3 separate regions of the Homo sapiens genome follow, and all the other regions are linked to region 1. Evidence: fine-mapped expression QTL. Tissue or cell type: whole blood. Region 1 holds a variant in brackets; each other region holds the start of a gene. All regions are shown on one strand. Distances are from middle to middle.

What was found. PIP is the estimated chance that this variant, and not a neighbour inherited with it, causes the effect.
Region 2: PPAN starts here. The variant in region 1 is fine-mapped to the expression of PPAN in whole blood (TOPMed, PIP above 0.99).
Region 3: SHFL starts here. The variant in region 1 is fine-mapped to the expression of SHFL in whole blood (TOPMed, PIP 0.98).

The regions. Positions count from the first base shown.
Region 1 is chr19:10,178,162-10,186,261 of GRCh38, reverse strand. It overlaps DNMT1 (DNA methyltransferase 1), which reads left to right. Exons shown (of 41, transcript NM_001130823.3): 2 at 4,185-4,221; 3 at 5,377-5,484; 4 at 5,693-5,912; 5 at 6,028-6,075. Among named protein-coding and RNA genes, the nearest start is that of DNMT1, 13 kb to the left of the region's middle. RefSeq lists an enhancer at 1,827-2,327. The variant T/C (reference allele first, on the strand shown) is at 4,966.
Region 2 is chr19:10,102,818-10,110,917 of GRCh38, reverse strand. It overlaps PPAN (peter pan homolog), which reads right to left and starts at 4,556. Exons shown (of 12, transcript NM_020230.7): 1 at 4,506-4,556; 2 at 4,247-4,417; 3 at 3,312-3,413; 4 at 3,064-3,114; 5 at 2,784-2,954; 6 at 1,211-1,287; 7 at 898-1,005; 8 at 672-795; 9 at 516-594; 10 at 304-433; 11 at 52-221. The coding sequence starts at 4,523. PPAN-P2RY11 (PPAN-P2RY11 readthrough) reads right to left here and starts at 4,556. Exons shown (of 13, transcript NM_001198690.2): 1 at 4,506-4,556; 2 at 4,247-4,417; 3 at 3,312-3,413; 4 at 3,064-3,114; 5 at 2,784-2,954; 6 at 1,211-1,287; 7 at 898-1,005; 8 at 672-795; 9 at 516-594; 10 at 304-433; 11 at 52-221. The coding sequence starts at 4,523. It overlaps SNORD105 (small nucleolar RNA, C/D box 105), which reads right to left and starts at 3,267; the gene lies at 3,183-3,267. SNORD105B (small nucleolar RNA, C/D box 105B) reads right to left here and starts at 1,169; the gene lies at 1,078-1,169. It also overlaps a transcript of ANGPTL6 not described here. RefSeq lists enhancers at 851-1,432, 2,344-2,987, 4,630-4,679, 4,276-4,919, 8,061-8,100 and a silencer at 4,360-4,409.
Region 3 is chr19:10,081,643-10,089,742 of GRCh38, reverse strand. It overlaps SHFL (shiftless antiviral inhibitor of ribosomal frameshifting), which reads right to left and starts at 3,426. Exons shown (of 8, transcript NM_018381.4): 1 at 3,295-3,426; 2 at 2,691-2,814; 3 at 2,443-2,492; 4 at 48-86. The coding sequence starts at 3,315. RefSeq lists silencers at 3,158-3,437, 3,508-3,727.

The DNA.
Region 1 (8,100 bases):
AAACATTCTAGGGGTTTTGAAGGTTTCTCTATTCTCTTTGCCAGGCTAAATATCCCAGTTCATATGAGGGGTTGAAAGAAAGCAGACCCATTCTGCAAGGACACCTTGGTCTCCGCAATCAGTTGAACCTTGTCCTTCACACCCCAGGCAACCTCGGGATCAGGGGACTGGCTGGCTTGGTCGAGGTAGAAGCCATGTCCTTCCAGTTTTCTCAGCGGCGTGACTGAGAAGTCAAGTGTAACGCTATTACCACAGCGTGTGTGCCTCTGGCTGGAAGTACCAGTTTCTGTAGCCCTCCTGACTTAAGGCTCTCCTTGGACCCCAGTTGCTACAAGGGTAGAATGACTTTTGCCTGGAAGAGGTTCCTTGTGCTCCTGGAAATCCTGATGTCAAAGCATCTTTTTTTTTTTTTTTTTTTCTTTTGAGACAGGGTCTTGTTCTGTTGCCCAGGCTGAACAGGCTGGATTGCAGTGGTACCATCATAACTCACTGCAGCCTCAACCTCCCAGGCTCAAGCGATCCTCCCACCTCAGCCTCCCAAGTAGCTGGTACCACAGGTGCACACTAACCACACCCAGCTAATTTTTACATTTTTTTTGTAGAGATGGGATCTCTCAGTGTAGCCCAGGCTGGTCTCAAACTCCTGACCTCAAGTGATCCTCCTGCCTTGGCCTCCCAAGGTGCTGGGATTACAGGCATGAGCCACTGCGTCTTGCCTGGCCTTGTAGCACCTTGAGTCCAAGTGATACAGTATATATAATATACAGTCTATATTACCACTGTGTTTGTAGGGTGCTAAGTGTCTCTTCTACAGAGCAGTCTTTTTTTTTTTTTTTTGAGACAGAGTTTTGCTCTGTTGCCCAGGCTGGAGTGCAGTGGCATGATCTTGGCTCACTGCAAGCTTCACCTCCCGGGTTCACGCCATTCTTCTGCCTCAGCCTCCTGAGTAGCTGGGACTACAGGCGCCCACCACCACGCCTGGCTAATTTTTTGTATTTTTAGTAGAGGCGGGGTTTCACTGTGTTAGCCAGGATGGTCTCCATCTCCTGACCTCATGATCCGCCCACCTCAGCCTTCCAAAGTGCTGGGATTACAGGCGTGAGCCACCGTGCCCGGCCCTACAGAATGGTCTTTCCTAACCACACAGCAAGTCAGGAAGTCCCTGCCTAGTGACACCTACATCTAATCACTTAGCTCTTTGCCTGGAGCAGGGCCTGGCATTCAGCAGGTGCTCATATGTGAGCGGCGCTGGTGGGGAATCAGGGCCCGCATGACCCAGAGCAGCTGTTGTAAGACATGGGTCCAGCAAAGCATTCCTCATGCTGCTGCCTGCACTTACCCTCTAGGAAGGCCAGCCTGGAGGAGCCACTTCTGCCCTTCAGGCAAATGATAACTGAGCACCTGTCTGTGCGGGTGCTAGGTGGAAAGGTCCAGAGATGGCAGTGGCCTGGTCCCTGCCTGGGGCACCTTCTCTCCACCAACAGACACTTACCCAGCTGGTTAGGCCTGTTCTCACCCCGCAGTCTGTAGTTAGCACCCAGGCTGGGAACAACAGCCTGTGTTCCTCTCCCTTTCCTTGGTACCTTCTCTTCTTGTTCCTTTATTTTTTTCTGAAGAGATAGGATCGCCCTATGTTGTCCAGGCTGGACTCGAACTCCTGCCCACAAGCCATCCTCCCACCACAGCCTCCTGAGTAGCTGGGGTTACAGGCACGCAGCACCGCGGCACTGCACCGGCTATTGTTCTTTTATTTTTTTCCCTCTTTGTCCCTGAAAGAGTCAAGCTACTAATTGTCAGTAATCAAATCAGACCACGATTTCCCAGGCAAACTCCTGGCAGTTCTACATTTAGGAATGACTAGCTAGAGACATCCTGAAGAATGAGTTATTCGGGGAGGCGCCAGCCACCTCCTCTAACTTCACCTCTATCTGCCCTCTGTGTGGGTACCCCTTGCTTCCCTGGATGCTTGACTCCCCCATTTCATCCTCAAAATGCCACCACCCCCCACCAGGCCTTTAGGAACATCAGCTGGCTGTTCCCCACAGTGTCCTGTGGCCCTGGGCTACTCATTCTGACACTGGCCATACTGTGGCACACCTTGTTATGGGCTGTTGTCAGACCCAACTGGAGAAAGACCAGCTGTAGGTCATTTCCCTTACGGGAGTGCCCCAACTATATGACCTGCCCCCTCTTTCCTGGTATCTTTTTGAGTCAGGGTCTCACTCTGTCTCCTAGATTGGAGTGCAGTGATGCAATCACGGCTCACTGTGGCCTCGACCTCCCAGGCTCAGGTGATCTTCCTTCCTCAGCCTCCCAAGTAACTGGGACCACAAGCACATGCCACCAAACCCAGTTATTTTTATTTTATTTTATTTTATTTTATTTTGAGACAGAGTTTCACTCTTGTTGCCCAGGCTAGAGTGCAATGGTGTGACCAGCTCACTGCAACCTCTGCCTCCCGGGTTCAAGTGATTCTCCTGCCTCAGCCTCCCAAGTTGCTGGGATTACAGCCACCCACCACCACGCCTGGCTAATTTTTGTATTTTTAGTAGAGATGGGGTTTCGCCATGTTGGCCAGGCTGGTCTCAAACCCTTGACCTCAGGTAATCCACCCACCTTGGCCCTCAGGTAATCCACCCAACTGCTGCTGTATGTTGGGATTCCAGGCATCAGCCACCACGCCCAGCCACTAATTTTTGTATTTTTGTAGAGATGGAGTTTCGCCATGTTTCCCAGGCTGGTCTGAACGCCTGGGCTCAAGTGATCCGCTCGCCTTGGCCTCCCAAAGTGCTGGGATTATAAGCGTGAGCCACCATGCCTGGTCTCTGGTACCTTTTAAAATATACAGGCTGGGCATGATGGCTCATGCCTGTAATCCCAGCACTTTGGGAGGCTGAGGCAGGTGGATCGCCTGAGGTCGGGAGTTCGAAACCAGCCTGACCAACACGGAGAAACCCTGTCTCTGCTAAAAATATAAAATTAGCTGGGTGTGGTGGTGCATGCCTGTAATCCCAGCTACTCGGGAGGCTGAGCCAGGAGAATCGCTTGAACCTGGGAGTCGGAGGTTGAGCTGAGATCACACCATTGCACTCCAGCCTGGGCAACAAGAGCAAAACCCTATCTCAAAAAAAAAAAATATATATATATATACACACGTATATATACGTGTATATATATATACACACACATATGTATACATATATACGTATGTATACACATATATACGTATATATACACATATATATGTATATATACACACATATACGTGTATATATATACGTGTATATATATATGCATGCCAGACATGGTGACTCATGCCTGTAATCCTAGCACTTCAGGAGACTGAGGCAGGCGGATCACTTGAGGTCAGGAATCTAAGACCAGCTTAACCAACATGGTGAAACCCTGTCTCTACTCAAAATACAAAAAATTAACGAGGCTGGTGGCACCTATAATCCCAGCTACTTGGGAGGCTGAGGTGAGAGAATCACTTGAACCCAGAAGGTGAGGGTTGCAGTGAGCTGAGATCGCACCACTGCACTCCAGCCTGGGCAACAGAGCGAGACTCCATGTCTGTCTGTCTGTCTATCTATCTGTATAATGTATATGTATGTATGTATATATGTGTGTGTATATATATACACATATATACATACATATATACACACATACTCTGTTACAGAGCTGCTGTGTGTGTGTGTATATATATATACACATATGTATATATACACATATACACATATATATGTATATATATACACACATATATATACACATATATATGTATATATATACACACATATATATACACATATATATGTATATATATACACACATATATATACACATATATATGTATATATATACACATATATATGTATATATATACACACACACACACATACACATAATTGTGTTACAGAGCTGCTATGTAATCTCACAATCATCAGAAAAATGACCCCCAAAAGGGGAACCTTGTTCAGATCAGATGACTTCTTAGCATTAGGCATTCCAGTAGGACACTCTAGACTCTTGCGGGGAGACAAAAGCCAGCTTAGTTTTTTCTAACACTCATATGTTAAACTTGTTTGTGTCCAAAACTTCTTTAGAACTGTGATATTCTTACAGGCAAATGAAGTTGCTTAACAAGTGTTTGTATTTTCTCCCCTATTTCTTCCTCCCAGGCTCAAAGATTTGGAAAGAGACAGCTTAACAGAAAAGGTAATCTCCACCTTAAAATTTTTCTTATTACCAAATCTGACTGACACACTTTGTGGCTCATAAAAAGAAATTTGTTTTCTTTAAATGGATTTTGCATTTTTTCCCATGGAGTTTCAAAGATAATTTGGATATTCTTGTTAAATGTCAGCACTAATTTGCTGCTAATAGTTGGGTGGTGGTGGTGTTTTTTTTTGTTGTTGTTTTTGTTTTTTGAGACAGAGTCTCACTCTGTCACCCAGGCTAGAGTGCAATGGCATGATCTCGGCTCACTGTGACCTCTGCCTCCCGGATTCAAGCTGTTCTCCTGCCTCAGCCTCCCAAGTAGCTGGGACTACAGGCACGCACCACCATGCCCAGCTAATTTTTATATTATTAGTAGAGATGGGGTTTCACCATGTTGGCCAGACTGGTCTTGAACGCCTGCTCGTGATCTGCCCACCTTGGCCTCCCAAAGTGCTGGAATTACAGGCGTGAGCCACCATGCCTGGCCCAGGTTTTTTTTTTTTTTAACCAATCTCAGTTCCTAAACAATCTACTCTGGATTGTAACTTGTCCTGGTAACACTGTTTTATTGTGTTTTTGTTATTGTTTTGAGATAGGGTCTCATTCTGTAGCCCAGGCTGGAGTGCAGTGGCACAATTTTGGCTCACTGCAACCTTCGCCTCCCAGGCTCAAGTGATTTTCCCACTCAGCCTCCTGAGTAGCTCTAACTACAGGCTCAAGCCACCATGCCCAGCTAATTTT[T/C]AAATATTTTTTGTAAAGATGGGATTTTGTCATGTTGCCCCAGGCTGGTCTTGAACTCTGGGGCTCAAAGCAATCCACTTGCCTCGGCCTCCCAAAGTGCTGGGATTATAGGTGTGAGCCACTGTGCCTGGCCGACACTTTACAGAAGCACAGTATTATTCTTATAAACCATGATATGTCTCCATCTCACCTCCAGCTTTCCCATTTTTCACCACTTTGGAGACAGGAGTGAAGTGATCCTAATGGAAATTCCCTGAACACATTTCATGACTGTTTAGTGTTTTGACTGAGACAGCATTGCCTGCCATTCACTCATTGTGATGTGATCAGGCAGCTCAATAATTTGTGTATTAGTCCACTAGTGAATAGCTTGGGAATGTGGGTACTGCTAAACCTATATCCTTCCCTTAGGAATGTGTGAAGGAGAAATTGAATCTCTTGCACGAATTTCTGCAAACAGAAATAAAGAATCAGTTATGTGACTTGGAAACCAAATTACGTAAAGAAGAATTATCCGAGGTAAGTCAGTTCTCAGCATCCTAGCCTCTAGAAAAATGTCTCCTCCTAGTAACTTGTCTGTGACCAGGGAGGCAGCAAGATCCCCAGCTGTCCTCATTGCCTGATGATGATGATGATGATGATGATGATGAAGGAAACACATGTGTTTCCTTGTTCTCTGACACTTGTTTACATTCACTGCTACTTAAATTATCCTTTCCTGCTGTAGGAGGGCTACCTGGCTAAAGTCAAATCCCTTTTAAATAAAGATTTGTCCTTGGAGAACGGTGCTCATGCTTACAACCGGGAAGTGAATGGACGTCTAGAAAACGGGAACCAAGCAAGAAGTGAAGCCCGTAGAGTGGGAATGGCAGATGCCAACAGCCCCCCCAAACCCCTTTCCAAACCTCGCACGCCCAGGAGGAGCAAGTCCGATGGAGAGGCTAAGCGTAAGAGCAGATGATTCCTTTTATTTTTAATTGTTTTTGAGATGGAGTCTCACTGTGTTGCCCAGTCTGGAGCACAGTGGTGTAACCTCGGCTCACTGTAACCTCTGCCTCCCAGGTTCAAGAGACCCTCCTGCCTCAGCCTCCCAAGTAACTGGGATTAGAGGTATGTGCCACCACACCCAGCTAATTTTTGTATTTAGTAGAGATGGGGTCTTACCATGTTGGCCAGGCTGGTCCAGAACTCCTGACCTCAAGTAATCCACCTGCCTTGGCCTCCCAAAGTGCTGGGATTACAGGCATAAGCCACCACGCCTGGCCCTGCTTAACTCTCTTTCTTTCTTTCTTTTTTTTTTTTTTTTAATGACAGAGTCTTGCTCTATCGCCCAGGATAGAGTGCAATGGCGCGATCTCGGCTCACTGCAACCTCCGCCTCCCAGTTTCAAGCGATTCTCCTGCCTCAGCCTCCCAAGTAGCTAGTATTACAGGCGGGCACCACCATGCCCAGCTAATCTTTGTATTTTTAGTAGAGATGGGGTTTCACCATGTTGGCCAGACTGGTCTGGAACTCCTGACCTCAAGTGGTCCTCCCGCCTTAGCTTCCCAAAGTGCTGGGATTACAGGTGTGAGCCACCGTGCCCGGCCCCACTTGGCTCATTTTCAACCTAGAAGCAGGCTTTGGTAGCATATAAGGGGGCAGTTAAACTTGGACCCCAGGTCAGTGTGTCCAGGTTCCTTTCTTTTGTACGCATCCTCACTAGTAATTACTGGACACTTCCTAACTAGCTTAGATGTGTACGTCTTTAAATTTTGTCTTAGCTGGGGGTGTGGTGGCTCATGCCTGTAATCCCTGCACTTTGGGTGGCCAAGGTGGCTGGATCACCTGAGGTCAGGAGTTCGAGACCACCCTGCCCAACATGGCAAAACCCTGTCTCTACTGAAAATACAAAAAATTTGCCAGACGTGGTGGCGGGTGTCTGTAATTCCAGCCTGGGCAACAAGAGTAAGACACTGTCTCAAAAAAAAAAAAATGTTGTTTTCGACCAAGTTGCAGCATTAGATCCCAAAACATGGCTATGAGTGTGACAGGTTGCAGATGACAAGTGCTACAAATACTTACTCCTTCTAAGACCTTATATGCCTGGTTAAACATTTATTCTCAGACTCTTGCCCAGTTTTAGGCAAAGGAACTCTAATGGAAATTTTTTTTTTTTTTTTTTTTTTTTGAGATGGAGTCTTGTTGTCTCCCAGGCTGAAGTGCAGTGGCGCAATCTCGGCTCACTGCAAGCTCTGCCTCCCAGGTTCATGCCATTCTTTTGCCTCAGCCTCCCGAGTAGCTGGGACTACAGGCGCCCGCCACCATGCCCGGCTAATTTTTTTTGTATTTTTTAGTAGAGACGGGATTTCACCATATTAGCCAGGATGATTTCGATCTCCTGACCTCATGATCCGCCCGCCTCGGCCTCCCAAAGTGCTGGGATTACAGGCGTGAGCCACCGCGCCCAGCCTCTTCTGGAATTTTTTAAAAAACAAACAATAGGATAGTACTTGAGCTCAGGTCTGGTTCTCAGCTACTTCATTTTTATTTTGTTTTATTTTATTATTATTTTTGAGAGAGAATCTCGCTCTGTTGCCCAGTGGCACGATCTCGGCTCACTGCAAGCTCCACCTCCCAGGTTCATGCCATTCTCCTGCCTCAGCCTCCCAAGTAGCTGGGACTACAGGCGCACACCACGCCTGGATAATTTTTTGTATTTTTAGTAGGATGGGGTTTCACTGTGTTAGCCAGGATGGTCTCAATATCCCGACCTCGTGATCCACCTGCCTCGGCCTCCCAAAGTGTTGGGATTACAGGCGTGAGCCACCATGCCCAGCCTTATTTTATTTTCTTTTAATTTTTATTTTATTTTTTGAGATGGAGGCATGCGCCACCACGCCCAGTTAATTTTTGTATTTTTAGTAGAGACAGGGTTTCACCATGTTGGCCAAGGTGGTCTCGAACTCCTGACCTCAGGTGATCCACCTGCCTTGGCCTCCCAAAGTGCTGAGATTACAGGTGTAAGCCACCTCACCTGGCCCTTTATTTTATTTTTTTTTGAGATGGAGTCTTACTCTGTTGCCAGGCTGGAGTGCAGTGGCACAATCTCGGCTCACCACAACCTCCACCTCCTGGGTTCAAGTGATTTTTTTG
Region 2 (8,100 bases), 75 kb after region 1:
CCAGAGACAAGGACAGGCTCTGGGTGCCCTGCTGCAGACCCCACTCCATACCCTCACTGGGCGCCTCGCCCACCGCCTGGCAGAAATACTCGATGTCATCATCTTCCTGTTCATCATCGTCCTCACCCAACTCCAGGCTCGCCGTCCTTGAAGGGATCCCAGAGGCCTCTTCATCACTACCCCCGACCCGTGCCTTCTTCATGCCCTCCAGGCTCTTCTTTCTGGAGGAGGGCGTGGGGGTCAACATAGCCGCCCATCCCAGGGACCCCCCCTTGGCCCTGCCCTTCCCAGCTCTGCCTGGACCTGTGGGCCTCCCGCTGCTCCTGCTTGCGCTGCACATTCTGGGCCTGCTGGGCCTGCCTCTGCGCCTTCAGCCGCAGCTTCTTCTCCTTGGCTTCCAGGATGGCCTGCAGCTCCTCCTCCGTCTTGCTCACTGAGCCAAGAGACGCGGGTCACCAAGATCCGGGTGCAGCTCCACACCCATGACCCCCCACCCCCGGCGGCCCCGGCCTCACCAAAACTGTGGAACATCACTTTGCCCTCCCCGACGCCCTCCTGGACCTTGATGAGCTGCAGTGTCATCCGCGGGCCGATCTGAGGGGACGAGGAAGAAGCGTCAGCCCACCGTTGGGACTGGTGGAGCCCGGGGGTCCCCCTGCCCTGGGCCTCACCTCGGTGAGCCGCACTGCACTCTGCTGGGCCCGCATGTTGCCACGGCCAGCGACAGCCTGAGGCAGCTCTGTGATGTTGTGGTCGCCGTCAGGCTCTGCCTCGCTCTCCGACAGCCCCGCGCCCCTGTGTGTAGGACATAACAGGGCTCAGTGGGGGAGCTCAGGCTCCCGGTCCTGTTCTGGGGTCCCCGGGCCGCAGTGGCCTCCCGCCCTATGCCCTCCTCACGTGGCCAGCAGCTCGCTGATGTCCTGCAGGCGGCTCATGTTGGGGAACTTCTCCTGGAGCAGCTTCTTCATCCCGCGACTCGCGCCCACAGGAACAACTTTGATGCTACTGCAGGAACATGAGTGGACGGCAAGGGGGTGGTCAGGGGGCACGTGATGGGGCTGGCGGTGCCCATCTCACCCTTCCCACAGTGCGTCAGGGCGTTTACTTTGGACAGAGCAATCACAGCGTCTCAGCAGAAGTGCTGTCATCAGCCGCATGTGGAGGCCCCCACCCGGCACCCCCTCGTCTCCCATCCTGCTGGGACACTCACTAGTGGCGGAAGTCCAGCTCCTGGGAGTCGGGGTTGTAGTCGATGAGGAGGCAGCGCTTGATGGTGTTCAGGTTCACCTGGAAGGGGAGGAAGAGAGCATAGTCCAGTAGACTCATGGCAAAGTTTGGGGAAGTGGGGGCTTTGGGGGATACACACACTGTTCGTGGACTGTGGCACTGGCTAGAAATGCTGCTTCCAGCTCGCACCTGCAGTTTTAGCTACTCCAGAGGCTGAAGTGGTGGGACTGCCTGAGCCCAGGAGTTCAAAACCAGCCTGGGCAACACGGCGAGTCTCCATGTCTACAAAAAGTAGATGGAAAAATGAGTTGGATGTGGTGGTGCACGCCTGTAGTCTCAGCTACTCGGGAAGCGGAGGCTGCAGGATTGCTTGTGCCCAGGAGTTCAAGACCAACGTACGGAGACCCCGTCTCTTAAAAAAAAAGTAAAGAAGGCCGGGCACGGTGGCTCACGCCTGTAATCCCAGCACTTTGGGAGGCCGAGGCGGGCAGCTCACGAGGTCAGATCAAGACCACCCTGGCTAACACGGTGAAATCCTGTCTCTACTAAAAATACAAAAAATTAGCCGGGGTGTGGTGGCGGGCACCTGTAGTCCCAGCTACTCGGGAGGCTGAGGCAGGAGAATGGCGTGAACCTGGGAGGCGGAGCTTGCAATGAGATGAGATTGTGCCACCGCACTCCAGCCTGGGAGACAGAGCAAGACTCCGTCTCAAAAAAAAAAAAAAAAGGTAAACAAGAAATTCTGGTCCCAGAGCCGTATTAGCCTCCCTGATGACTGATATCTTATATATAATTTATAAGTCCCATCTGAGAGTCACTAGTGACAAGGATTAGGAGCTAGGACTCAGGAGCCAGATGAAATTAAAAATCCAGTCCTGCCCCCTGGAATCTAAACTTAGCATCTCTGCCAGCCTCAGATTTGCTTTTTTTTTTTTTTTTGAGACAGTGTCTCGCTTTGTCACCCAGGATGGAGTAGAGTGGCGTGAACACAACTCACTGCAGCCTTGACCTCCTGGGCTCAGGTGATCCTCCCACCTCAGCCTCCCCAGTAGCTGGTACTACAGGCATGCACCGCCACACCGGGCTTTTTAAAAATCTACTTTTTGTAGACATGGGGTCTCGCTATGTTGCACAGGCTGATCTCAAAGTCTTGGCTTCAAGCGATCCTCCCACCTCGCCCTCCCAAAGTACTGGGATTACAGGCCGAAGCCATAGCACTGGGCCCGCAGCTTCCCTCTGTAAAACAGGGCCCTAAGAAGAGATGCTACGATCCTGCTCAGCCCAGCACTCAACACACGTGGGAAACAGAGCTCCATCAGTATTTCTTTCCACCGGCTGGAAAAGGTGCAGCTCACGGGGTGTGGACCGCTGGGGGAATCTCTGGACACTTTTGCCCAGCATCATCAGACACAGGAGTGGGATTTGACCTCAGGACTCAGCAGACCCAGGAGCTCCCAGTCTCAGCGCTGGGAGGAGTGAGCAATCCATCTGAGGGCCTGTGGCACCTCTATCCGCTGCACCCCCCCATACCTGCCACCTCGCCAGGCCAGACCCACCTTGTGCACGTTGATGGAGGGGAACAGGTTCTGGAACATGGTGGCCATGAGCTTCACATGCATACCATGGGGGCCAAAGCTGTTGAGTACCAGGAGGGGTGGGTGGGCAAACTGCTGCTCGTGCATGCGGTGCCGGCGCAGTGAGGAGACCACATCACGCACCAGCGAGTACTGTAGGACAGGAGAGAGGAGGGGGTGACCACCAACCACACATGGCTGCGGACAACCCCAAGTCCAGCTCCCACCCCACATGGCTTTGTACCACCTCCACCCCTCTCACCTTCTTGACCTGGAAGGTCAAGGTGGGGCCTCCTGGGAGGCGCATCAGCTTCTGCAGGAGAAGAAAAGATCAGTGACTCTGGAGGGGTCTAGCAGAGGTGCCCGGAGTAGGCACCTTTGCCCCATCTCTTCTTCAGAGCGTTTACTTTGAAGCCAGAAATCACAGCAGCTCAGAGGCATATGTGTTCATCATGAGAGATAGGGGAAGGGGGGGTCTGGGGGAGATGAAGGGTGAGGGCGTCTACTCACAAAGTAGACATTGGTCTCTGTTTTGCTCAGGATCAGAAAGTGTGTGACCCCGAGGGGCCCAGCCACTGCCACGCAGTCCTTCAGCGAGTTCTTCTTACGAACCTGGAAATGACAAAAAGAAAAAAAGAAAACATAGCTTATCCCTTGTTGTGACAACTATAAGCTGACGGTGCAGATCCTGTTATGGTCTGTCTTGCATCTGACCCTTTCAACAAGCCCAGAGGAGCAAAAGGATCTTAGCCTTTAGAGTCAGTCGGACGCAGATTTGAGTTCTAACTCTGTCTCTTGCTCACAGCGCATCTTCCCATTGACAAATGAGCGAACTCAGGCCCAGAGAGGTTAAGTAACTTGCATCAGATACTGGGGAGAAGTCAGTTTCCAACCCTGCTTTGCTGCCTCCAGATTCTAGTCTTTTTTTTTCTAACACGGTCTCCTCCGGTCGCCCAGACTGGAGTGAAGTGGCACGATCCCGATTCACTACAGCCTTAATTTCCTGGGCTCAAGGAATCCTCCCACCTCAGCCTCCCGAGTAGCCGGGACTACAGGCACGCAACACCATATCCGACTAATTTTTCTATTTTTTGTAAAGACGGGGTTTCACCATGCTGCTCAGGCTGGTCTCGAATTCCTGGGCTCAAGTGATCCTCCCGCATCAGCATCCCCAAATGCTGGGAATACAGGCATGAGCCACCACGCCCGGCTCCAGATTCCAGTCTTAACTGTCAGGCTTAGGCGACTATCTATCTCCCAAGCTGCGCGCCCTCACTCCAGCCCAGCAAAAGCCCTGAAAGGCAGAAATGATGCTCCCCATGAGGGTCTTTTTTTCCAGCTGGGGAGACTTAAGTCCTCCCACAGTTTTACAGCGGGAGCCATTACTGCAGCTACGAAGACTAGGCCGAGGGTGGGTGGAGGCGGGCTGGGGGTGGGGTACAAACCTGCAGACGGCTGGCAGTGAGCGGCTCCATGACCCGCCGCACGTCCAGGCTGAGCTGCCGGATGTTGCGACCCGTGCAGCCTCGCGTGAACACGAACGAGTGCGGGTTCGCGGCATAGGCCTCGAGGTTGCGGAGCTGCGCCTGGGCGCGGGCGCGCTTCTGGTGCCGGGACTGCGGCGACGAGAGACAAAGGGTCAGCGCCGCGACCTCGGCCGGGACCCCACCTGCGCCACCTGCCTCCCAAGCTGCCGGGCCTTACCCTCCCTGACTGTCCCATGCTGCTGTGTCCTCCACGAGGCCTCCTGCGTCCGCCGCTTCCGGCGCTGCGCAGCTCACTTCCGGCGCCTGAGAGCCGGCACGGCGTGGGACGACATCAGGCGGGCCTGCGCACTAGGTGGCCTCTGGGAGCGGGGAGGGGCAATCAGATGGAGCGGTTGCTATGGAGACACGGGTGCCTGTTTCTAGGGAGACCGGGGCGGGGCTACGCGGCTCCGGGCTGCAGAGAAACGAATCCGCCGGTTCGAATCCCGCTTCGGCCCATTTCCTCCAGCTGGGCTAAAACCACTTTCTGCATTCCGAGGCTCCTAAAATATCCCAAAGTAAGGCTGATAATGTCCCCCGGGCCCACGAATTAGGAGCGACCATGTATGCACAATGTTGGGCGCTCTGGCGCCAAGTACTTGGGGAGAAGCCACCGGAGGGAATGACTGTGGCAATCATTCACTTTAGTCTCGCAACTCCTCTGGGCCAGCTGTCCTCCCCGGGTACCCCTGTCTGCAGACAGGCTGAGGGATGGAAACTCCACATCACCTTCTGGAAACTCAGGGCAAGGCGGGCGTTTCGTGAATAACTCGCCCCCTCCTTCTTTCCGCTCAAAGCCTCAGTCTTGGCCTCAGGCCTCTGGCTTCTTCCCCAAAACCTTGCAGTGGGGGAAAGGGACACCCCCTCACTGGGCTGAACATTACTCTCTCCTCCCCCATCGGCCTCCTCTCCCTCCTTGCTCTCTCTGGCACCCCAATTCTTCCTCCTCTCCCCCAGATGTGTCTCCCCTCCCCCTCGTCTTCCCCCTGTCTCTTTCTCCCTCTTGTAACTTTGTCTCTGTCATCAGTTGTCTCTTTCATCATTTATAACTGAAGATGGAAACTAAAGAAGTTTCCTTTCTCTGTGTCTGGCCCCATCCCTGTTTCTTTCTTCTCATCTGCCTCCCTGTGGTCTCTCCCCATCTTCCCATCTCTCTCTGTCTCTCCCCATCTCCCCGTCTCTCCCTTTCTCTGCCATCTCCCTATGTCTCTCCCATCTCCCTATGCCTCTCCCATCTCCATCTGTCTGACTCTCTGTATTCTTCAGCCCCTCTCTGTGACTTATGAAGTTCCCTCCCTCTCTACTGCCAATGGGGAAGCCAGAGGGGGCTGAGGGTGGGGGGCCGAGGGGCCCAGTGTGGGGGCCCCAACCCAGGCCCAGAGCCCAGCCTGGCAGCCTCTCTCAGATCTGGGACGACCATTTCCTTTTTCAACCCTGGAGTCCACTCGAGTTACTCGGGAGCTCAGGATGGTGCAGACCAGGGGAAGGAGGTGACTCTCCCGGCGTGTGGCTGGTCGTCGGTGGGGCCTTTGGACAGGTCTCAGACCCTGGGCCTGGGCTCTGTGGGGCTCTATGTGAGTTTCTTTGTACCCCTGGGAAATGACTGCATGGTTACTTCCCCCAGTTCCGTCCTCGTGTGATTTGACTTGTGTGAAAATGTGACCGAGTGTGTGGGAGACAGACGGTGACCTCTGTGGTGCGGTGGATAGGTTTCCGGGTGTCAACTGTGTGTACCTGTTTTGTATCTGTGCACTACTGTGTGATCACAAGAACCAGGATGTGGACAAGCCTGACACACAGATAAAGACCCACTCAGCCCACCCCATTTCCCTTTAAGTTGTGATGTGTGTGTGACCATATTTGGAACATACAGTTGTTGCCTGAAACTGTTATGTTTCCAGCTGTGTCTTTTTAAAAATTTTTTTTAATCAATGAGATATCCTTTATTTATGAAAGCATAGTTCCAATGCAGAAGTCAAGCTTTATGGTTATATATTAGGATAGGTTCAGATCCAATATGACAATGTTTAGCACTAACTTTAACATGTTAAAGCTCTGATTCCTGAATGTTTTTCTCACTTAATATATTCTCTCCAATGACAAGCTGGTGTGCTTGGCTTCTTATGCTGAAAAATATATGCCTGAATTCTATAACAAGCTATTAACAAAATCATGAATAGTTAATTAAATAAGTGCCAACACTACATGGAACTTACTGGCCACCAACTCAGAACCATAAAACTACACACACACACACACACACACACACACACCACACACACAAACAAAACAAAAAAAACACCAAAGAAAGATAGCTATCACTGTACATATGAATACTGTCCAGGATATCAGATCAATTATCAAATCCAAGGTCTCTGGTGTTTTGTCTCACAGTGTTGAATATATGAATGCTTCTCTATTATACTGACTTGTATTATTTTCAACAAATAATTATGTGGACTCAAAATCTTACATTTTTATTTCTTTTCTTTTTTTTTTTTTTTTTTTTGAGACAGAGTCTTACTCTGTCGCCCAGGCTGGAGTGCAGTGGCTCACTGCAACCTCCGCCCCCCGGGTTCAAGCGATTCTCCTGCCTCAGCCTCCTGAGTAGCTGGGATTACAGGCATGGGCCACCACACCCGGCAAATTTTTGTATTTTTAGTAGAGACGGGGTTTCACCATCTTGGCCAGGCTGGTCTCGAATTGCTGACCTCGTGATCTGCCCACCTTGGCCTCCCAAAGTGCTGGGATTACAGGCGTGAGCCACCGCGCCCAGCCTTACATTTTTATTTCTAATTATAAAATCCAGATTAATCCAAAAAACATAAATCACATGTAACTGAGGTAGGGTTTTCACTTTAAGAATATATTGTTTCTATCACAATTTAAAAATTTACAGCTGTGTCTTTTATATTTATTTTTTATTTTAATTAATTAATTCCTCACTTTATTATTATTTATTTATTATTTATTTATTTATTTATTTATTTATTTTTGAGATGGAATTTCAGTCTTGTCGCCCAGGCTGGAGTGCATGCGGTTGCTCGATCTCGGCTTACTGCAACCTCCACCTCCTGGCTTCAAGCAATTCTCCTGCCTCAGCCTCCCGCGTAGCTGGGATTACTGGCGCATGCCACCATGCCCAGCTAATTTTTGTATTGTTAGTAGAGACGGGGTTTTAGCATGTTGGCAAGGATGGTTTCGAACTCCTGACCTCAGGTAATCCACCTGCCCCGGCCTCCCAAAGTGCTGGCTTTCAGGCATGAGCCACTGCACCCAGACTTTCGCTGGGTGTTAATGTGTGCGTGCGTGCAAATGTGTGTGTGTGTGTTTGTGTCCACTCTGTTATGTGCCCATATGTGTGTGACAGCTGTGGTGTACATGTGTGAGTTTCTGAGTCAAGCTACCTTGGCTGGCTCCCATCCTGGTCTCTTTTTGGCTGTGTGACCGCAGGCAAGTTGCTTACCCTCTCTGAGCCTCAGTTTTCCCTGCTGTAAAATGAGGGTACATACAGAATCCAGCTCAGGTTGTAAGGATCAAATACGTAAAAGGTGTGGAGAGTTTAGAGCCAAGCCCTACACACGGTAAGTCCCCAGTGATGTTCCTCTTTCTATGTGTGGTGTGTGCGTGTCTGGGGCTGGGATCACGCCTGGCTGCCCCAGGGCCTGCAGCCTCCCACGCTCTGGGCTCTGCAGTGGAGGGTGTGGGGGAAAGGGAGGGATGTCCAGGACACTGACCTGTGTTATCAGGCTCTGGTGGCCTGGGCAGGGGGG
Region 3 (8,100 bases), 97 kb after region 1:
TGTCCCCCTCCCAACTCCCCCATCCCAAGCCCTAGCCACCAACTCACCTGAATGTCCCGGTCCTGCTTCATATCTTCTGGTGGATCCTGGGTGGAGATAGCAGGGGCAGAAACTGGGGATGGGGCTCAGGCCTCTTTCCACCCGTTTGCTGGGGGAGGCCCCCGGCCGCAATGAGTAGGGTGCCCCTAACTCGCCAGAAGCTCACAGAGCACCACTCACTTATTGAGAGCCAGGTGTGTGGCCTCAGTTGTCCTCATAGCAGCCCTGAGAGGTGGGCACACCTGTTACCTTATTGCTCAGATGGGGAAACTGAGGCTTAGGGGAGGGCTTGCCTGAGTGAGGCTAGCCTGACCCCCATACTCACTTCCTGCCTGCAAATGCCACATGCTTGTTGATGTTGTGACATATCGCCCCTTTGAGGCCACGTTGTGCTCGGCTAAGTGGGAGAGAGATGTGGGTTCAAATCCCAGCTGTATCACTTCCAGCTGTGGGGACTTGGGCAAGCCACTCCCTGCCCCCTGGGTTCCCACTGACAGGCATGTTAGAGCCCAGGCTCTGACTCCAGGTGGCCAGGGTTCAAATCGCAGCTGCCCCTGCTTGCTGGCAAGTGACTTCGGCCTCAGTTTCTTTGTCTGTGAAATGGGGATAAATAATAGGACCTGTCTCCTGGGGTCACTGCAGTGATGAAATAAATAAATTCCTGGAATCTTGCCATGTGGGAAGTACTCAATGAATGCTACTCTCTGCTAATATTATTATTATTATTATTATTATTATTATTATTATTATATTTTTGAGACGGAGTTTCGCTCTTGTCTCCCAGGCTAGAGTGCAATGGCACAATCTTGGCTGACTGCAACCTCTGCCTCCCAGGTTCAAGTGATTCTTCTGCCTTAGCCTGCCAAGTAGCTGGGATTACAAGCATGCACTGCCACGCCCAGCTAATTTTTTGTATTTTTAATAGAGAAGGGGTTTCACCGTGTTGGCCAGGCTAATCTCGAACTCCTGACCTCAAGTGATCTGCCCGCCTCAACCTCCCAAAGTGCTGGAATTACAGGCGTGAGCCACCACACCTGGCCCCTCTGCTATCATTTTTATCATACTTTTATATGTATAAATGTAGACTATGATACATGTTTTGTTATACTCTGGTTTTGTTTGTTTTTGTTTGTTTGAGACGGAGAATCGCTCTGTTGCCCAGGCTGGAGTGCAGTGGTGCGATCTCGGCTCACTGCAAGCTCCGCCTCCCGGGTTCACGCCATTCTCCTGCCTCAGCCTCCTGAGTAGCTGGGACTACAGGGGCCTGCCAGCACAACTGGCTAATTTTTTTTTTCGTATTTTTAGTATAGATGGGGTTTCACCATGTTAGCCAGGATGGTCTCGATCTCCTGACCTCATGATCCGCCCGCCTTGGCCTCCCAAAGTGCTGGGATTACAGGCGTGAGCCACCGCGCCCGGCATTTTTTTTTTTTTTTTTTTTTTGAGACAGAGTTTCGCTCTTGTTGCCCAGGCTGGAGTGCAATGGTGTGATCTCAGCTCACTGCAACCTCCGCCTCCTGGGTTCAAGTGATTCTCCTGCCTCAGCCTCCCGAGTAGCTGGGATTACAGGCATGCGCCACCATGCCCAGCTAATTTTGTATTTTTTAGTAGAGACGGGTTTCTCCATGTTGGTCAGGCTGGTCTCAAACTCCCGACCTCAGGTGATCCGCCCGCCTCGGCCTCCCAAAATGTTGGGATTGCAGGCGTGAGCCACCGCGCCTGGCCTATTATACTCTTTAACAGCCCTACACTAAGCCTTTCAGGCAGGCTAAATCCACAGCGTTCCCATCACCAAAGCTGTCAAAGAAGCAAAGTAGCCATGATGCACCTGTGCTTCAAAGCCATTCATTCATTCATTCATTCATTCATTCATTCATTCATTCAACACAAGGGTTCCATTCCCCTGCCTCTCTCTCCTCCCCAATCCTCTGCTCATCCTAGCCTTTCTAGAGACTGCCACTAACAACCCTTCCCCACCTCCCAGCCTTTGCTTATGCCATTCCCTCCCCCACCCCAAGACCCCTGCCTTTCTTTCCCTTTCCCCTCCCAGGGCTCACTCCTCCCCATCCTTTAAGACTTGGTACCTCCTCCTCCAGTAAGCCTTCTCTGACCTCTGCGCCCCCGCTATGATGGCAATAATCCTGGCTCCTTTCATTGCTTAGTTTCATGGCTCTCTCCCCCATTGAATACAATCAGCACATAATGAGCGCCTACTGTTTGCAGGCTCCCTGGCCGGACAAATGATGGAGAGGTGAAAAAGTGAGATTGGGTGATGAGTTATGGACCGACAATGCCTGGTCCCTCCTGTTTCAGAGGGGGGTCAGTCACCATGAACGGGTCGGGTCCCCCCTCTTGCTCTCCCTCCCGTGACCCGGTCCTTTGCGAGGGGAGGGGATAGGTTACCTGGGCATCCAGATCGTTACTTAGTTCTTGGCCATCTTTTTGCTTTACCCCTGCGGGGGAGAGTGCATATAAGGGAAGGGCCCTTGAAGGGTCTGTGGGAGTTCCAGGCCACCCAGAGCCGCGACGCAGAGCCTCCCCAAGGCTGGGACCTCCGGGGGAGGTGATCTCAACGCCTCTCCCTAGACCACGCCCCCTCGGCGCTCCCACGCGCGGTCCCCGCACCAGGCCCGGGACCCCTGCAGCCTCACCGTACACGATGGAGCGCCCCACTCCCGTGTGGTCGCTGCCGAATTTCCTCATCAGAGCCCCCGCCTTCTTGGAGGATACCTTCCCATGAAACTTCTCCCGGAGGCGCCGGACGCTCTTCTCCAGCTGGGATGGAGACAGGGGGGTTCCGGTGGGGGAAGGGGAAACGGGATCATCCCTCCCCCATCTCTAGGCACCGTTCTCCCGGCCCGAACTTGACCCTTGGTTTTGGCCTCCGCCGCCCCCCCCCCGCCTTTCATCCCTTTACGGCATTTCCTGGAAAAAGCCAAAGTCCCCACAGGGCGTTGGGGGAAGGCGCGGACTGGGGCGAGCGTCCCAGCCTAAGGTGTGGGGGGGCGGCCAGGTTATCTCTGGCCTCTGACCTTTGACCCTGCAGCCCCCGCTTTTCCTCGGGGAGGCCTCATTTCGCTCTGGGGAAACGTGGGAGTCACTTTCCTTTTCAAGGGGGGCGAGCGCCAGGCAGGGGTAAGGATCTGGGGTTCTAGGATGGGGGTCCCCAGGAACTGCGAAGCCCCCTCCGCGCCTCCCGGCCGCTCCTCGGGGTCTGTCGCGGCTGACCCCGGCCCAGCCGTAGCCATCGCTTACCTCCACACCTTCCTGAGACATGGTGGCGGCGGCGCAGTTCCCCGCGAGGGTCCGCACTGCGCGGCTCAGCCGCCCCCCTACCTGGGTGCGCCCGTCGGTCCAGCAGCCGCGCAGGGCAGGGGGCGGTGCCTCGGGGCCGGCTCCGCCCTTCCTCCCCGGCCCCTGTTTCGCTTTCGATTCAGGGGGGACCCGGCGCGCTGGCTCCGCCCTGGCTCCGCCTCTGCTCTTGCGCCCCAAACCCAGGCGGGCGCCCCGGGTCTGCACCCTGCGGCGGAGCGCGCAGACCTCGGACGGGGGAGGCGGCGCGGCCTCTGCAGTCGGTCACATGTCCCCACGCTGCGCGGGGTCCGCGTCTTCACGTCCCTCGTGGGGGCGGGGCCGCATCAGAAGGCCGCGGCGAGGCCCCGCGCCCCCCCACCCAGCGCGCGCTCCCCCAGTTCATCACCCTCCTCTCTGTTCTCCCTCCTTCCCCGGGAATCTGGCGCTCATGAGGACCTGGGCCCTTTTCCTGCCCTGAGTCTCTGTCCTAGCTACGGTCACCTCTCTCAACCTCAGTTTACCCCTCTGTGAAATGGGGAGAATCCTGGTGTCTACACCATGGAGTGGAGTATGTGCCAAGATTCCCGAGTGGATCGCGTAATAGCGCCTGGCTTGCAGTAGGCGTTCAACTAGTCACTGGGCCACCTGCTGTGTGCCCTTGATAGGGGCAGGCAGTGTGTGTGTGGTTGGGGGGAGCGGTGCTTGAGAAAAATACAGATTCTTGGTCTCTAGTAGCCCGGTAGAATCCGGCTGTCTCAGGGATCCAGGGAATCTGCAATGGTTAAGAACCCCGTGGGACGGACAATTCTAACCCAGTACAGGGCACATCAGGGAGCCCTTAGGTGGTGGGGCTCTGGCCCAGCCTGGGGACACAGAGATGGCAACTTCATTGGAGGAGGGGATGCTTTGTAGAGTCACTGAAATTGGAGGTCTTAGCTAGGGGAGGAATAGAGTGGGGAGATGAGGCAGCCGTGCAGAGCCCCCAAAGCAAGACTAAGTCTGGGGTTTTTGGGCAATGGCTTCTCAAGCCCAGCACTCTTGACACTTTGGGCGGCCTAGTTCTTTGTGTGGGGGACTGTCCTGTGTATTGGGGGACATTTAACACCATCCCTGGCCTCCACCCACTAGATGCCAGTGGTTCCCTACTCTCCCTGTTGTGACTACCAAAAACGTCTCCAGAGACTGCCGGATACTCTCTGAGGAGCAAAATAGCATTGTGTTCAACGACTCCAAATTTTTTTCTCCATTGCACACCCCTATAGGTAAAAGTGTTAAAGTTACACCCCCAGATGGATATTTATTCATTTATTTATTTTTTGAGACAAGATCTTGCTCTGTTGCCCAGGCTGGAGTGCAGTGGTTTGATGGTGGCTCACTGCAGCCTCTAACTCCTGGGCTCAAACGATCCTCCTGCCTCAGCCTGCTAAGTAGCTGGGACTACTGGCATATGCCACTATGCCTGGTTAATTTTCTATTTTTTTTGTAGAGACGGGGTCTCACTATGTTGCCCAGGCTGGTCTCAAACTCCTGGCCTCAAAGATGGATATTATTTATAAATTATATACAAATACAATTATATCAATATATTCTGTTAACTGTTATATAAAATATTGATAGATAAATGGAGCTGGGCATGATGGTTCACACCTGTAATGCTAGCACTTTGGGAGGTCAAGGTGGGAGAATCACTGGAGGTCAGGAGTTCAAAACCAGCCTGGGCAACATAGCAAGACCTTGTCTTTAAAAAAAGAAAAAAGAAAAGGAAAAAGTTATTTTTAAAAGACTAAAAAACAAACAATAAAACCCCCCAAATCTAGATATTCTAAAGTTTTTCCAGTTGAACCCCAAAGCTTTGTTTATAGGGTGTATGTACTCCACTCTGGAGACTACTGTATTTGCAAACTACAAGCAGTTCATGATTCCTTGTGGCTGAATGGTGGAATCCTAGGCAGGATGGGGGCTGGAAACTGCACAGAAGACCTGGGATTTTATCCTGAGGGAAGTGGCGAGGTTTGGAGTGGATCGCCTGTCATAGTTGCCAGTTACTAATCTATTTGCCCAGTGCAGAGGGAGGTCATAGCTATGTCCCATTCACTGGCCGAGATGGGCACTGAGTGGGCAGGAAACAGGTAAGAGTCTGAGCTAGCCCTGACATAAATCAGATCTGGTAGGTTTTTTGTTTTTTGATTTTTTTTTTTAGCGCAGAATATGCAGACCAAAGGTCTGTTAGGTTATAATCACCGTGGCAACCACATAGAGCGTGTACTCTGTTCCCAATGCTGTTCCAGGCACTGTGGACATGACAGCAAACAAAACAAAGATCCCTGCCCTCGTAGAGCTAGCATTTTTTTAAATTTGTTTTAAGAGACGGGGTCTCACTCTGTCACCCAGGCTGGCGTGCAGTGGCACAATCATAGCTCCGCTGCAGCCTCAACCTCCTGAGCTCAAGCAATCCTCCGGCCTTGGCCTTCTGAGTAGCTGGGACTGCAGGTATGTGCCACCACATCCGGCTAATTTGTTTGTTATTTTGTTGTTGTTTTGTTTGGGTTTTGTTTTTGTTTTGAGACAGAGTCTTGCTCTGTCACCCAGGTTGCAGTGCAGTGGCACGATCTCGGCTCGCTGCAACCTCTGCCTCCCGGGTTCAGGCAATTCTCCTGCCTCAGCCTCCCGAGTAGTTGGGACTACATGCATGTGCCACCACTCCCGGCTAATTTTTATACTTTTTTGTAGAGCTGGGGGCGGGGGGGTCTCACTATGTTGCCCAGGCTGGTCTTGAACCCCTGGGCTTAAGTGATCCTGTTGCCTTGGCCTCCCAAAATGCTGGGATTTCAGGTGTGAGTCACTGCACCTGGTCCATCCTTATGATTTCATGTGGTCTTTGTAGCTTAGGACTTGAGAAATGGCTTTGCTGCTGGGCTGTTCTGGCTCAGGGCCTCTCAGAAGGTTGCAGTTAAGGAGTTGGTCAGGGCTTCAGTCATCTGAAGGTTTGACGGGGGCTGGCGAATCTGCTTCCAAGGTGGCTCACTCTCAGGGCATGCAGATGGGTGCTATGATTGGCGGGATGCCTCGATTCCTCCCAGTATACTTGAGTGGCATGAGTGTACTCCCAGCATGGGAGCTGGCCTCCCGAGCACCTTCCAAGAGCTGAGAGCCAGGTGGAAGTTGTATCTTTTTATGATCTAGCCTGAAAGTCCCACATCACTTCAGCCACATTATGTACATTAAAAGCTCATTGACTGGGCACAGTGGCTCATGCCTGTAATCTCGGCACTTGGGAAGCCAAGGCAGGAGGATCACTTGAGGCCAGGATTTCGAGGCCATGCTGGGCAACATAGTGAGACCCCATCAGCCAGGCGCGGTGGCTCACTCTTGTAACCCCAGCACTTTACGAGACCAAAGTAGGTGGATCACCTGAGGTCAGGAATTCGAGACCAGCCTGGCTAACATGGAAACCTCATCTCTACTAAAAATACAAAAATTAGCTGGGCGTGGTGGCGGGTACCTGTAATCCCAGCTATTTGGGAGGCTGAGGCAGGAAAATCACTTGAACCCAGGAGGCAGAGGTTGCAGTGAGCCAAGATTATGCCACTGCACTCCAGCCTGGGTGACAGAGCAAGACTCTGTCTCAAAACCAAAACGAAACAAAACAAAACAAAACAAAAAAAGCAGCAAATCTTGACCTGGAACTGGACCCTTGGAGGCTTAAGCTGGGCGACTGTGTTCAATTATGGAGGAAGGCCGGGTGCAGTGGCTCACACCTGTAATCCCAGCACTTTGGGAGGCCCAGGAGGGCAGATCACTTGAGGCCAAGAGTTCGAAACCAGCCTGGCCAACATGGCAAAATCCTGTCTACTAAAAATACAAAAAATAGCCAGGCATGGTGGTGTGTGCCTGTAGTCCCAGCTACTCGGGAGGCTGAGGTGGGGGAATCACTTGAACCCGGGAGGCAGAGGTTGCCGTGAGCCGAGATCGCACAACTACACTCCAGCCTGGGCAATAGAGTGAGACTCCATCTCAAAAAAAAAAAAAAATTGCTGGGCACGGTGGCTCACGCCTGTAATCCCAGCACCTTGGGAGGCTGAGAGCCCAAGGTGGGGATCACCTGAGGTCGGGAGTTCCAGACCAGCCTGACCAACATGGAGAAACCCTGTCTCTACTAAAAATACAAAATTAGCCAGGCATGGTGGCGCATGCCTGTAATCCTAGCTACTCGGGAGGCTGAGGCAGGAGAATTGCTTGAACCCAGGAGGCGGAGGTTGCGGTGAGCCGAGATCGTGCCATTGTACTCCAGCCTGGGCAACAAGAGCAAAACTCCATCTCAAAAAAAAAAAAAAAAAGAAAAGAAAAAAAATATTGTGGAGGAGATGGAGACCATTGGAGCATGTGCATGCTTTTCACAATCTAGTCAATTTCCCACTCCAGTTGAGTCAAATGAAAAATTGATCGGGAATGCTCAGAGCTGGAGAAGCTGTAGGGAAATGAGAAATCTCCCAAATCATTAGAGACAGCATCCGTTGGTGAAACCTTTTGGGAAGGACACCATGGAAAAATCTACTACTAAACTATTAAGCATGCTGGATTAATCATGTCTCTCATTTTCTGTTGCTGTCTTCTTCTTCTCTTTGTCCTTCTCCTTCCTCCTCCTCCTTCCTCCTCCTCCCTCCTCCTCCTTCTCTTCCTCCTCCTCCTCCTCTTATTCTTCTTCCTTTTTTTTGTTTTTGAGATGGAGTCTCGCTCTGTCGCCCAGGCTGGAGTGCAGTGGTGCGA